2 linked regions of the Homo sapiens genome follow. The protein of the gene in region 2 purifies or fractionates together with the protein of the main gene of each other region. This does not show direct contact. Each region holds a gene or a part of one and is shown on either strand. Other genes may lie near its edges.

Evidence for each region. Proteins that work in one complex are often made in the same cells at the same time.
Region 1: the proteins of GSTA1 (region 2) and SPDL1 purify together in Homo sapiens (affinity purification with mass spectrometry; 3 studies listed by BioGRID and IntAct, with this or other methods). This does not show direct contact.

What each region holds. Positions count from the first base shown.
Region 1 is NC_000005.10:169,579,548-169,586,795, reverse strand, and holds the start of SPDL1 (protein Spindly), read right to left. Parts: upstream 3,024-7,248; 5' UTR 2,907-3,023; intron 2,717-2,906; exon of another isoform or gene 2,630-2,716; intron 1-2,629. UniProt on the Homo sapiens protein: Required for the localization of dynein and dynactin to the mitotic kintochore.
Region 2 is NC_000006.12:52,800,801-52,808,809, forward strand, and holds the start of GSTA1 (glutathione S-transferase A1), read right to left. Parts: upstream 3,017-8,009; 5' UTR 2,985-3,016; intron 1-2,984. UniProt on the Homo sapiens protein: Glutathione S-transferase that catalyzes the nucleophilic attack of the sulfur atom of glutathione on the electrophilic groups of a wide range of exogenous and endogenous compounds.

The sequences.
Region 1 (7,248 bases), on a different chromosome or scaffold from region 2:
ATGTGAAATGGCTCAGACTAGGGTGGCAGCATAGGAGGCTGTGAGAAATGGCCAGATTTTGAAGGTTTTGAAGGTAAGGTCAATATGATTTTCTGAAAGATATAATTTGGGATGTGTGAAAAAGGGAAAAGTAAAAAATGCCTCCAAGTCTTCTGGCCTGAGCACCTAGTAAAATGGAATTGCCATCAGCTGAAGCACTGATGTAAATAATGTTTTGGAAATAAAATCAGGAATTTGAGTTTTGAACATGAACTATGTCAAGTAGGCAATTGGATATATGAGAAGAGGAATCTTGGCTGGATATGCAAATTTGAGAATTATCAGTCTATAGAGGATAAAAGTATTTAAAGAGAAATGGACCAACGACTGAACCCTGTTATGAGGTAGGGAAGAAGACAGCGGAGAATCAGGAGTGACCAGTGAGGTAGAAGGAAAACCAGGAGTATGTGTTGTCCTGGAAGGCAATAAACAGTGTATTAAGGAGGTGGGAGTAATCAATCATGCCAGATGCTGCTGCTAAGGCAATTAAGGTGAGAGCAGAGAACTGGCCATTGAACTTGAATTCCTGGAGGTCTCTGGTGACAAGAACAGTTTTGATATCCAGGTGGGGGTGAAAGCCTAACTAGAATGCCTTCAAGAGAGAATGGTAGGAGATAAAGATAGCAAGCACAGGTTTGCTGCAAAGGATAACGGATAAACGGAGCAGCAGTTGGAGAGGAAGTAGGGACAAGTTTTTTTATTTTTAAGATGGAAAAAAATAACAGTGTTTGTAGGTCATGGGATAAATCCAGGAGAGAAGAAAAACTGATGATCTAGAAGACACTGGAGAATTGCTAGTGATGTCCCTGAATAAACAGGATGAAGTTTAATGTAGAGACTGGTTTTAATAGAAGCATGGATATTTCATTTAAGCAAAGTATATGAGTTTAGATGCTGATAAGCAGGTACAGTGGTGGAAGTCTGTGTAAGTAACCTTTTAACTGCTTCAATTTATCAATGAATTAGGAAGCAAGGTCTTTAACTGAGAATGAAGACAAGGGAAGAGATACAGGGTTTAAGAGAGAAAAAAAGGTGTTCTAGGTAATCCCAGCTTGGCAGTCACTGCTCTAAAATGCAAGACCTTTTCAAAGCCTGTACATGATACGGCCAGCCAACTAAATGTTGTACTGTTCACAATAACTTACATTCGTTGAGGATTTACCATTTGCCATGCTAACTGCTTCAAATATATTATCTCATCTAATTATCTTGATGAGCTTGAGTTAAGTAAATACTGTCATCTCAACTACCAAAATAAAAATAGGGTTAACCTCAAGACATTCCAGCCAGGCATATCCAGAGAAGCCAAAAAAAATTTGCTTTAGTTTATTCAAAAAATTTGCTGGAATTCTTATTGTGTGAGACATTGTGCTAGTGTTGACAACACAATGGCAACCTAAAACAATATTCCTGTCTTCTTGAATCCTAGTCTATTAGTAAAAGACATTAAATCAAGTAATTGAACTATCAAGTTACAAGTATGATAAGTGCAAGAGAGACAGATGTATGCTACCTGAGCCTGTAACAAGGGGGAGCTGTCCTAATCTGGGGGGCAGCGCGTAGAAGGGAACATGGACAAAAAAATTTTCCTGAGGAAGTAACTTTTCAGCAGAGGTCTAATGGATGAGAAAGAGTTAACCTATCAATCTACAAAGAGAGATAGCCGTGGTTGATTAAAAACTACTAATGTGTGACAGACATTGTGCTTGGTGCTTTATACACATTCTTTTTTTTTTTTTTGAGACGGAGTCTCGCTCTGTCGCCCAGGCCAGACTGCGGACTGCAGTGGCGCAATCTCGGCTCACTGCAAGCTCCGCTTCCCGGGTTCACGCCATTCTCCTGCCTCAGCCTCCCGAGTAGCTGGGATTACAGGCGTGAGCCACCGCACCCGGCCGCTTTATACACATTCTTATTCAATCTTCTCAACAACTTCAAGAGGTTGAAGGTATTTCCCTCATTTTACACATGCAAGCTGAGGCATAGAAAGTTTTAAGTAACTTGCTTAGGGTTACCCGCAAGTTAAGACGCGAAGTGTGATGGGAACTAGAATCTACCTAGAAACCATGGTGCTGCAACCATTTTTCCTGTCCTGCTTCTCAAAAATATAGCACACACAAAGCATTTGGGACACAGGAAACTCTGGGAATCAAACTGCCTGAGTTCTTACCCCGCCTCCACTACTCACTGGCTGCATGAACTTGGACAAGTTATTTAATTTCTGGTTTAATCATCTATAAAAACAAGCACAATAACACCCACCTAATCGGTTACTGAAAGGATTAAATGAGATAACGAATGAAAAGCAATTAGGGTAGAATCTGACACACGGCTGGGGCAGTGCTGTCCAGCAGAAATATAACGCGAGTCATGTACGTGATTTTAAATGTTCTAGGAGCCATCATGATTTAAAAAGTAAACAAAGATGAAAAATTAATTTACATATTTAAACAAATACACTCAAAACATCATTTCAACATGTAATCATTATAAAAATTATTAATGAGATATTACTCCTTATGCGCTATCTCTGAAACCCAATATGTATCTCCCATCTGCACCATTTCTTAGTTCGGGCTAGAGGCTACCGTACCGCACAGCGCAGATCCAGTGGCGGTTATAATTTTGAGGACCCGGCAACCGACCCAACGTTCCATATTTGTCCAGAATCCCTGAGGGCGGCGAGGTGGTCCAGCGGAAGATAAGACCGGCTCGGAACCCAGTGTATAAGACCCCAGGGTTCCGGGGAAGGAGATGTTTCAGCTAAAGGCCTCGGCCGAGACCCCGGCCCCTAGCTTTCTTTAGGGCCTGTTCGACTCTCCCCACTGCCGCTCTCCACACCCACCTCCCACCAGGCCCCTTGCCCCTACCTCTCACGCTAGTCCCCTGCTGCCGCAGCCAGCGGCTCCTAATGGGAGCTCAGGGCGTCCACATTGAGGACGCTAACTCCACAGTCGCCGGCCCATTCGCTCAGCTAGCTCTCGAGTAAGCGCCTGGGATATTTGAATGCAGTTCCCGCGAGAAGTCCCACGTCTCACGAGACGTCCGCCCAAGCCGCGCGGAAAGGAAAAACCAAGAGAAACGCCCAATGGAGCGCCCACCCCCTCCTACAGCTACTGCGCATGTGCAAGTGGCGCGCCGTGGGCTTGGCGCAGGCGCAGGCGCAGACGTGGCTCCACATAAATTTTTCCTTGGGCTGGTTTCCTGCATGTCTTTTAAGTATTTGCTTTTAGTTTCCGTGTTTTGGTGTTTTGTTTGTTCGTTTTTTTTTTTTTTTTGTTTTTACGACAATGCCTTCTAGGGGAACAGTGTCGCTGGGCTGGGCGGTGGAGAGACACCTTTGGCACCATCGTGCGATCTCATGCACCCTACCAGTGGTAATACTGGCGTTAATATTTAAGTTCCCACCATGTGTTAAAGTTTACAGATTATCTCAGTTAAGCCCGCAGCCTTATGAGGCAGATATTACTCCTCGTTTTCTACAGAGAAAAAGCCCGAAGAAAAAAAGTGCCTTGTCCAAGTGGTAGAACTAGAATTGAATGCAGTCTTAGAGTCCAAGCTGTTTGCATGTGTTTTTAATAATAATATTTTGTAACCCTGATGCCTATTCAAAAATTGAAGCGATCAGAAATAATAATAGATAACATTTAATGAGCACTGATGAGTCCTAGTAACTGTTACATGAATCATGTCGTTCTTTCGAGCCCATCTTTTCTTGCCTATTTGAGAACTTGGCTCTAACTGCTCTTTTTTGCATCTTCAGTTTTTTCTTCTCTATTGGATCTTCCCTATCAGTTCATAAACATGCTGCAGTGATTGCCATAAAATCATTTCATGATTTCATTTTTTAAAAAATCCTCCTTGACACCAATCGGCAACCACCCCATTTGTTTTCTTCTCTTTATAACAAAATTTCTGGGGAAAAAAAATCTTTACATCCATTATCTCCATTTTCTTACCTTTTGTTCTTTTGTTTGTTTTTCCCACTTTAACCAGGATTTGGTCCCAACCAATACTATGAAGTGGCTCTTGTTAGGTTTACCAGTGATTCCTACCTTGCAAAATTCGGTAGTCAATATTTAGTCCTCACTTCTGGTGAAATTTGACAGAGTTGCTTGCTCTCATTGATTTGAGTCTTTATGTCTTGGGATGCCACACTCTCCTTGCCCTCTTCTTCTCAGTTTCTTTTGCAGACTACAATTTCTGCCTGAGCTAAGCCAGACTCAAAGGGTTGATCTGAGCTTTAAGATTGGCAACAAATTGCTCACAGTGTTGTCTCACAGATTTATCTGGGACTCCAATGAACCAGATGCTCATTCATTTGTAATCACACCTATGTTCTTGGAGAAATGAAACAAATACCATTTTCCCTATCACTGAACAAAGATTCCTTAACTCAGGGGCCAGGAAAAGATTGTTCTAGCTTAGGCCAATCATGACTGGCTGCAATTAGGTAATCTAAAATCGATCTGAACTTATTTTTTCTCCTTTGTTACAAGAGAAGGTATACCCTATGTTATTAATGTTTCTTCCTATTCTATTTTAAAAATATGTATTTTAAACTATTAATTGAGTGACTGCAATGTGTTAGGCATAGTGGAGGAATTCAGAGATGTGGTAAACTCGACTATTGCCTAGAAGATGCTCGCAATATAGTAGGAGATTTTAAAAAACAAATAGAACTTACAGGGCTGTAAATGCTATGCAAGTGGTATGTGCCCCACACTAAAGGAGTTGTGTGAAGGGAGAGGTATATTTTGTCTAAATGTTCCTTTAAAACTTCCCAGTGCATGTGACACTTCAAGCAGGGCCTTGAAGGATGGCAGAGCTAAGGAGGGGTGCATTCTAGGGGAGGGGACAGCATTAGGAAAGTCTTAGAGGTTACCCCATGTCATAATAAAGGTCATTCTTTAGGGATGGCCTGAATACAGGACTGCCAATACCACCACTGGACGCTAGATGTCACAAGTGAAATGAATTCTAGATGGGTTCTACTTTTAAGATAACTTAATGGAACTTCTGATTCACAATACCAGATGCAGATCTCCGTACTCAGGCAAGGTCCGCATACCATGGCCTAAATACCAAAGGTCAGGAAAAAGCAAAAAACAGCAACCTTGTATCTGTTATTTTCCATTTACGTAAGGAGAGATGGGACTTGGCCTCCTCACACAGTAGTGGATTCACCAAGCATAGGATGGGAGTTCAGATTCTGGGAAACAACACCCACCTCCCAACTCTGTGGCCCTCAGTTACAATTCCTAATATTATAGCTGTTCAGAACTGGGATAGACTCCTGTAGTGAACTTGTCATCATTTCTTCATTGTGACTGTTCTAGACGAAACGAGAGGATTAGACTGTTACGTTATATTGAAAGCTGCATATATTTTGACAGGAACTTATTGAATGATCATTTGTTTTGGGCATTACAAATGAATAGTCTCTGTATTAAACGAACTTAGAGTTTAGTGGAAGAGACATTTACCAAACAATAAACAGTAAATCCTTACTTAGAGGATGACTTAGACTTTCTTGTTCCTTCATGTTATTAAGTAGAGCTGCAAGCTAGTCATCGCTGGGATCAAGCAAAAACAAGCTCAGGACTCTGAGACACAGAGTCTGCAAATAAGAATGAGATTAAGCTGTAGAGTGCTGTGATTTATAGGATGGGCTGGAATATGAAGTTACGAAAGTTACACTCAAGGTTGTGGTCACTGAAACTTGGGGGATGGCCGAGATGAAGAAAAAAAGCTTTGAGAGAGAACGGAGGGGTGTGTGCAGGACTTTTGGGATTGTCCTAATCCATGGCACAGGAGGAGAATAAGGATCCAACAAGAAAAACAGGAGCCATATGAGAAGAGATCAGGAAATTGAATTGTCACAACTTCCACTGTGATAATTAGATATCAGAATGAATCATTGTACCAGGCAGGTGGGTTTGACTGTTTAATAGTAATAATGATAATGAAACCCAGTCTGCGATCTCTCCTGTATCAACAATGTATAGCATCAGCTTGAACTCTGAATGAGCCTAATAGCTATACTATTTTTTCTTTAAATAGGGGGAATCTTCTCTCAGAGAAAGAGTGCACCATCCCAATATAGTAGACATTTAACAGCTAACATCCTAGCATGAATTCCTTCCTCCTATTCCCACCAAGAGAATTCTGATTATTCTTTTGTATAATTTCTATTTTCTCAATTTTCAGCCATATGAATTCTTTAAAACTGATGCTACCTTTCATCTCTAGGATATCCCGTCACCCTGGTTACAGTAATTGATTCAAAGATGTGCATGTGATGGAATCTAAGCCAAAGAGATTTTTCACTGGGACAGCTGGAAAAATGGATTTTGTTAACTGCCTCTGTTATAGTCTGAATTGTGTCCTCACCTCCATTGCCCCCCACCCCATATTCATATGTTGAAACCCTAATTCCCAATGTGACTGTATTTGGAGACAGGGCCCTTTAGGTTAAATGAGGTCACAAGGGTGAGGCCTTAATTGATAGGGCTACTGTCCTTATAAGAAGAGGAAGAGACATCAGAGATAGATCCCCTTCCTCTTTATCTCTCCCTCTCTTTTCCCCACTACTCCCAAGTGCGCACAGCGAGAAGGAGGCTGTCTGCAACCCAGGGAGAGAGACTTCACCAGAAACCAACCTTAGTCTTGGACTCCCAGCCTCCAGAACTGTGAGAAAATGTCTGTTATTTAAGCCACCCAATCTGTGGTATTTTGTTACAGTTGCCTGAGCAGATTAATACACCCTCTGTACTTAAACTTTATAACCCAGAGCTTCCAGCTGACAACTTGGGTTCATGAAAGACAAATCTGCTTGGAAGAGAGGGAGCAAAGAGTTCTGGTCATGCCATTTGAGCCCTGCATCAAGCCTCTCATGAAGCTAGAGCTGTCCCTGGACTGTTCAGTTTTTGCTCAAACCACACAGCTTCACTTTGAGTTTTCTGTTTTCTGTTGTTTGCAACATAAAGGTTTTTTGTTGTTGTTTGTTTGTTTTGAGATGGTGTCTTACTCTGTCACCCAAGCTAGAATGCAGTAGTGCGATTTCGGCTCACTACAACCTCTGCCTCCCGGGTTCAAACGATTCTCCTGCCTCAGCCTCCCAAGTAGCTGGGATTACAAGTGTCCCCCACCACGCCTGGCTAATTTTTGTATTTTTAGTAGAGATGGGGTTTTGCCATTTTGGCTAGGCTG
Region 2 (8,009 bases):
TTAAGATTCTTCTTGCAAAGTTTTGTGGTTGTTGAGTGTGGAACAAAAATATACTTGCCTTTAACAACTAATGTATTTATTTATTTATTATTAATTTTGAGATGGAGTTTCACTGTTTTTGCCCAGGCTGGAGAGCAATGGCGTGATCTTGGCTCACTGCAAACTCAGCTTCCCAGGTTCTAGTGATTCTCCTCCCTCAGCCTCCTGAGTAGCTGGGATTACAGGCATGTGCCACCACACCCGGATAATTTTGTATTTTTAGTGGAGACAGGGTTTCAGCATGTTGGACAGTCTGGTCTGGAACGCCTGACCTCAGGTGATCCACTCGCCTCAGCCTCCCGAAGTGCTGGGATTACAGGAGTGAGCCACTGCACCCGGCCTCAACTAATGTATTTCTAAAAAGGTATGTATGACTAAAATTAGGCATCAAAATCTTTTAAATGTCTCATTTTAAAATATGGGAGTCAATAATTAACCTTTGGAAAGTAAAGAATTCTTTGAAATCATACTGAATCAACTCACCTGTTTTGTCATGAGATATTTTGACATTGTACTTTCTATGATAACTCCAGGAGCAATTTAAAGTAACTTGGGAAATGGAAATAGCATAATTTGACAGAGTGAAAGGGAGAGTGAAGTTCAGATGAAAGCATGGGGTATGCTTGTTTAATTGTTATCGACTAGAGTTCACAGTGTTGTAATTCCAATCCCCAAACTAAACTCTCTTAGCCATTGATTGAGGATCATGTTTCAAAAGGAAGTGAAATTTTATCTTACATAATATTTTATCACAACACTCCTGCTGATAACTAGCATATCACTTTCTCAATGTGAGGTTTCCAAGGGTCAGGCTAAGACTGAGACATAGGTTACCATTGAGCTTTGTTGGGTCAACAGAAAATGAGAACCAGAGAGCTCAAGGATTTGCCATGGGTCACACACACATGCTCCTCATTCATAGTCAATATCTAGGGAGTGTGTTTACCTTCCGCAACAACCCTGGGAAATGGCTCCTATTATCCAAATTAAAGATGGGCACACTGAGTTTCAGAGAGCTAAAGCACCTGTCTCATGCTGCACACTTGGTGAGTGTTGGGTCAGCCTTAACTTCTGATTGCAGGTCCAGAGCTTTTCCACTCCACCTCATAACCTGGCTCTCAGCTCCTGTCTGAGAAGTTGTTTTGTATTTTCCTATTAAATATATATTAGCCAAATAAATGTTGGAAGGAGAGGACGAGAGGGGAACATCTAATTCCTGAGTTCCTCCTGTTAGCAACTTTTCAGGGGCTTGCTTGGAAGAAAAAATTGATAAAACTGTGACTTTCTCTGATTTGACAACCTAAAAATCAGAGTGAGTTGAGGACTAGTATAATTACTTTACATCAATAATTAACTTACATCAATTAAAAAATGGGCTTGTTTTGAAAGGAATATAAGCTCTCATAATTCCAGGAGTAAATTAAAGGAGTTACATTTACATCTCTGAGGTGGTCCCAATGACACTGTTTCTTATCAGAGAGAAGGGAGAATGAGATAAACTATGACTCCTTCCATTATGAGATTCATAAATGCAGTAGGTTGTTTAATCTCTGAGCCTCAATTTTCTCTTCTTAGAATAGAGATAGTTATTTCTACTTTTGAGGGTTGTTGAGAAAGTTAAATGAGATAATGTACAAAAAATTCATAGTAGGAACACAGCAATGGGTGTTTGCTCTTGTCCCAGTGCTTGGAAGATGGGTGAGTCTCTGGACATATTGAGTAGCCCATGGATCCTCTTTCTTTGATCTATCTATCCATCAATTATTTTACTGACCAACAATCTATGTATATGTATCTATTTATAATCTCTGTCTACCCATCCATGTATGTATTATTTTATCTATCAATCGTTCTATGTATCTATCTCTTTGTAATCTGTCTCTTCATCATCTATTATCTGTCTTGTATCCATTTCTCTGGTTCTCTATATTTTGTTCATAGAACTCGAGTAGGAATAAGATTTTATATGAATCCAGACTTATATCAAATCTGTCATATGATGGCTCTCTGTTTCTCTCTCTCTTTCCTTTTTAGCTCCTGTACAGAAGATATTGATATTCACTAATCAGTCCACCTGGATTAACAGGAAATTTTCAGTGAATGTCCAAGCAGTGGGGCACATCAGTAACACAGCCTTGCTTAGCCCCATGAGGTCATGTAGTCCCATGGTTCTCAACCAGGGGGATTTTGCTCCTCTGCTCCAGAGGACATTGAGCAAGGTCTAGAGACATTTTGGGTTGTCATATCTGCGGGGAGGGAAAGGGGGTTACAAATCAGATAGGTAGAGGCCAGGGATGCCTAGAAACATCCTAGAGTGAGCAGGACAGATCTCCATTCAAAGAATTACACAGTTTAAAGGGCAGCAACAGTCGGAGCCTCTTTCTTAGCTATCCTCTATATTGGCCATGAGTTGGTAGAACTCCAGAGACAGAATATGACTTGTCTTTGAGCTAATTAGTGGCAAAGGCTCAACTAGAATCTAGTTCTCCTGACATTCAAACTAATTTATTCTAATTATACTAAACCTGAGTTTTGTATTTTCACAGCCAATATAGAATTACAGTGTCACAATTTACAATTGTGTGTTGACTACTTACACAGAGAAATAAATTTTTGCATACATTGCCACTTCTTCCAGCACTGATTATTCTCAGATTGTTTAAAATGCTACCATTTCTTTTTTCTCTTCATGTCATTGTTTCCCATACCATTAAATGCTGAAGCCCTGGTTTTCTAAATTCTTCATTTTTACAATTCTGTAAAGATGTATCCAACAGAAAAGAAATAAACAATTCTTGAACTGTCACCCAAGCACACCAAGACGGCACAATATGAGTAAAAACAGACTTTTCCTTGTGCTAAGGACACATATTAGCATATTTTTCTAGGAGGCTAGAGAGGAGGGTGTGAGGCAATGTAGAGAAATTTATAAGATCAGTACTTACTTTGTTAAACGCTGTCACCGTCCTGGCTCGACAACTGAATTCCAGGTCCTAATGTATTTATAAGCTCTTTGTTCCTCTCAATAGTTCTCTCCCACTGAAAGAAGAGTCAAGTTAGGGAAAAGCCACTCCCACACATTTCATGGCCAAGGGGCCACCTACTGGATTCTAAGACATGAGGCAAGTGATCTGCTTATCAGAAGACACTGGTTAATGTGTTCCTTTTCAAGGTTGGCAATCAAAGTTTACACAATACATTTCACCGAGATTTTGCTCTTTTTGCAAGTCAGCAGAAACTGGCTTTTTAAAGATGCTTTTTTTCATGAGTTGGGTGCAAAGACTAGGGCAACTGAAAAATCTCTATTGTGAGCATAGCTGGGAGAGGATGTCTGTGAAGGGCAAGCTGATGCCACCGTTTTCTTACTGGGTTGCCAAATAAAATATAGGACATCCATGTAAATGTGAATTTCAGGCAAACAATCAACAATTTTTTAGTTATAGCTATGTTCCAAACACGGTATGAAACCAGATTATACTGAAATATTATTTATTGTTTATCTGAAATTCACATTTAGGTGGGTATCCTGTATTTTATCTGACAAATCCAGAGACCCTATTTGCATATGCTATCCTCTTTGCGTCACTCAAATTGCCCATAATATAACAAATCTGAAAGTATTCATCACCTGGATTCATCAATTGCAAATAATCTTATTTCACCTATACCATGTAGGGGGTTATGTTGGCCCCCAAGAAAGATAGGTCCATATAGAAATCCCTAGATCCTGTGAACTTGATCTTATTTGGAAAAAGGCTCTTTGCAGATGTAATGAAGTAAAAGAATTTGAGATGAGATCATCTTGGTATATCTGGATAGGCCCCAAATCCAATGACAATTGTCCTCACAGCAGAGAGAAGAGAAGACACAACACACAGGGGGTGAGGTGCTGGAACACAGAGGCAGAAATTAGAGTGATGTGGTCATGATCCATGAAAGTCCAGAAAGGCCAAGAGCCCCCAGAAGCTAGAAGACGCAGGGAAGGATTCCTGGAAATCACTTCTAATCCAAACACGCTGGCACAATGACACACCAGGGAAAAATAATTTTGCATATAGTTACTTATATGTAATTCGCATATACCATCTGTATCTTCGCAGCCAGGCCTGAGTGGCACTGAAGGAACTGAGGGAAGGCTTATGCCCGGGTCCCCACAGAGCCTTGAGGAGAGTGAGGATGAGCCAGGAGCACATGCACTGTAAGGGATGACAAGTTGGCCTGAGAGCAGAGGGTGGGTCTGTTTGCTCTTCAATATTTCCTCACCCCTTACAAAACTGAGGGATCCATAGCAGACAGAAAGGTTGTTTGAAAATGCATAAGAAAAAGTGTTTTCATGAGAAATAAAATGGATGTCAAGGAAAAAAGAAAATTTCATTTTGCCATTCCCCAGAATGATAACTGTTTTCTTGTGCAGAATGTCAGAAGTAAATTTCTATACATGACTTTCTGATAGGCCATTTGACAAATGTTGCAGGACAATTCTTGAAAAAGTCAAACAAACCACATAGTCTACATTTTACTTTTTTACTAAATTTTTAATTCCAAGAAAATTTATGGGGAGTTTGGAAATCTGATTTCATATCAGATACTAATGAAAAGAAATCAATTTTAACTAAATCTGGTCATAGGCATTTTACTATGTAATTAGCACATAATTTTTAAAAAGTTTATTAACTTCACAATAGCCACAACCAACATTTAGATAAAGCAATTTATTGTTGCAAAACTTTAGAATATTGGTATTGCATGTTCTTGGCATCCATGCCTGTTTTATCAAACCTTGAAAATCTTTGTTGCTTCTTCTAAACCTTTCGCATTTATGGGAAGCTCCCTCAGGCTGCCAGGCTGCAAAAACTTCTTCACTGTGGGGAGTTTGCTGATTCTGATTTTCAGGGCCCGCAATGCACAAAGCACAGCCTCAGAGTGAAGCCAAGGGCTAACACCACCATTAACACAACCCAGGGAATCTGCGCCCCTCCTACACAAAGACCAACTAAGTTCCCTCTATCAGCACCAGTAGGGAGGCAGAAAGAGACACTACGTGAGAAATGAAGATAAGAGGAAGAACATGCAGCTCACTAGCATTTTCCCAAAAAATGTCTTTAAGACTTTATTCAGTTCAGTCTTCCTACCCTCTTCCTTACACATGAATCTTGTAGATTCATGGCTCTTGTAGAAGATGAGAAAGAACAATGTGCCTGTGAGATAGCACAGATCAGTCTCTAAGCAGAAGAAGTGAAGATATGGGAAAATTGAGCTAGAAATGAAAATAGAAAATGTTAAAGTCAAACCATGGGACCACTTTTTCCCATAGAGAGATATAGCTTTCAGGGGCAGCGTGTTGGGAGAGCTGTGCACAAGGAACTCAGTTATCTGACAGCAAGAGCCAGAGCATAAGGAAGGAACCAGATGGAAAGGGCCCTGCTCAGACACACTTGGTGTGGGAAGATAAGGGCATATTGGGATAAAGGGCATCACAGAGAACTCAGGAACAGAAACCACAGTGAAATAAAGGGATGAGGAGAGATGCTGAGTCCTGGGTCCTTGGCATTATAAAAAGCGAAATATTCTTGGGGTAGCATGCACATGTAATTTCCTTGGCATAACAAGAAGGCATTTCCATGCCTCAGAATCAGGACCTGGAAGCTCATTTTGGAGACCTGGGGGGCCCTGAAGACCTGGAGAAGGCTGAGGTCAGAATGTGGCCAGTTCAAGGACCCAGATACTAGATCCCAAGATGGGAGATGAGGAGCTGCCTCTTGAGGACTGGGAAATGGGTCACCTTCAGCAGAGGGAAGTTGGAGATGAGGCTGGTGTCAAGCTCTTCCACGTGGTAGAGAAGTTTGACCAGGTGAATGTCAGCCCGGCTCAGCTTGTGGCCAACGAGGTAGTCTTGTCCATGGCTCTTCAACACCTGGAGAATCAGAGGAAACAGATCAGGAACACATGTGCAGTGAGGCTGGGGCCTCTGCTTCTCCCTGAGTTTGTCCAGGCTGACTCTCCCTCTCCCACCTCTGCTTCCTTACTGGGCAGGTGCAAAGATCCAGATCTTTCTCCATGTTACCTGATTCAGTGAGAGAGTAAGAAGTGTGGCTCTGCTTACTCCTTGTTTGGAGCCCAGGCTCCCATTTTCTCCTCTCATTCCACATCACTATGGCATCCACAGCACCCACCCAGCTTGCATCTTCCACATGGGCCAGGGGCTTTTCCCCTGCTGCAGCATGTCCTGTCTGCCCCAGGCCCTACAGTGTGCAGCCCTGATGTTCAGTGGCTCTACACACTCTCTCTCCAGTCTCTCTTGGGCAGCGACTCCACCTTCATGACAGCACTCTTCTCCCACGAGTAGACTATTTCAGAATCCTCATTTCTCCTCATCTGCCCTCCTCATTTCCTGCTCTGGGATCTGAAATAAGCCTGGGTGAACTTTAATTCATCCTCTTTCTTGCAATGGTGGTTCTTACTGCTTTGACTATGTTATAATCTGCATGCCACTGTGTCCCAGGGTGAACTGCAAAGATGTCTGCAACTTACTTTGAAATGCACAATAATAATAATAATAATAATAATAATAATAATAATAATAATGTGTTTGAGTGAGGCAAACAGGGGTGGAGTGACTGACACGTGATAAATCAAAGATAAAAGGTTAACTTTGCTCTTTAGATCCTTGGTGTATATATGTTCATAAAACATTTCTTTGGACTACACCAGATCTATACATTTTTAATAATAAAGTTTTTGAGTGATATATGATATTTATTAAAATATCTCAGCACATTGACATCATAAATAATAAAAAGAGAAAACATATGGCAACACTGATTTAAGATAATAGTTTGACAATACATTTTCAGACTATGTATACATACAAACGTATGGATAATGACTTGGTACACAAACAAAACAACTTCAATGCTATATTGTAATATACATTGTTCAAATGCACATATCACAGGCTATTTGGTAGAACTCGTAGAATTCTTATTCACAGTCTATTTTTATACCATGCCTTGGGAGTCAGGTGCTCCATTAACATCAAGGAAAGCTTCTTGGAAGTGAAGGTCAATGCCCCAAAAATACACAGGTACTATTTTATTTTTCTGTTGCCTTGTGTTATGGACTGAATGTTTATGTTTCCCAAAAATTCATATGTTGAGATCCTGACCCCCAAATCTTTAGAAGAGATCCCTAAAAAATATATTCTTTCAAGCCATTAGTAGGTGGGGGTTTCAGGAGATGATCAAGTCATGGGGGTGGAGCTTTCATGAATGACATTAGTCCCCTTATAAAAGGGTTCTCAGAGAACTCCCTTGGCATGTTTGCCATGTGAGGACATAGCCAGAGATTGGCTGTCTATGATCCAAGGAACAGGTGCTCCCTAGATGTGAAATCTGCTGGCACATTGATCTTGTACTTCCCAGCCTGCAGAGCTGTGAGATAGAAACATCTGTTCTTTAAGCTACCCAGTCTATGGTATTTTGTTATTGCAGCCAAACTGCTAAGAAACCCTCTAAACTCTTAGTGCCCTTATAGACTAAACAGCTTCTATCATGACCCTTACAACAGTCAAATACACCAGCATTGGCCAATAACTGCCAGCTTCCCTAATTTTTGCCTCTATTTTCAATTTATGACCAACCACAGAAAGCAAAATATGGATCTCTGACTAATCCCATAGAAATCCACACTTCTAGTTAGCCAGCTTACAGCATCCCTAGGCCAGCAATCAGGACATAACTTTTTCTACCATGAATCTCTCAGACTTTCCTGCCTACCTCTGAATCTCTGATAAATGCAAAAGATGGCGGCTGACTTCCTTTCTATAGCAAGCTCTGTATAAACACCTTTTGCTTATTCTCATTTGGACTGTCTTCACTTCCACAGTTTTTCTGGAAGTTGCAACAAGACATGGTCTATGTTGCCCGTTGCCATGGACCCCATCCGTCAACCAGGTGCTGTATCCACAAAGG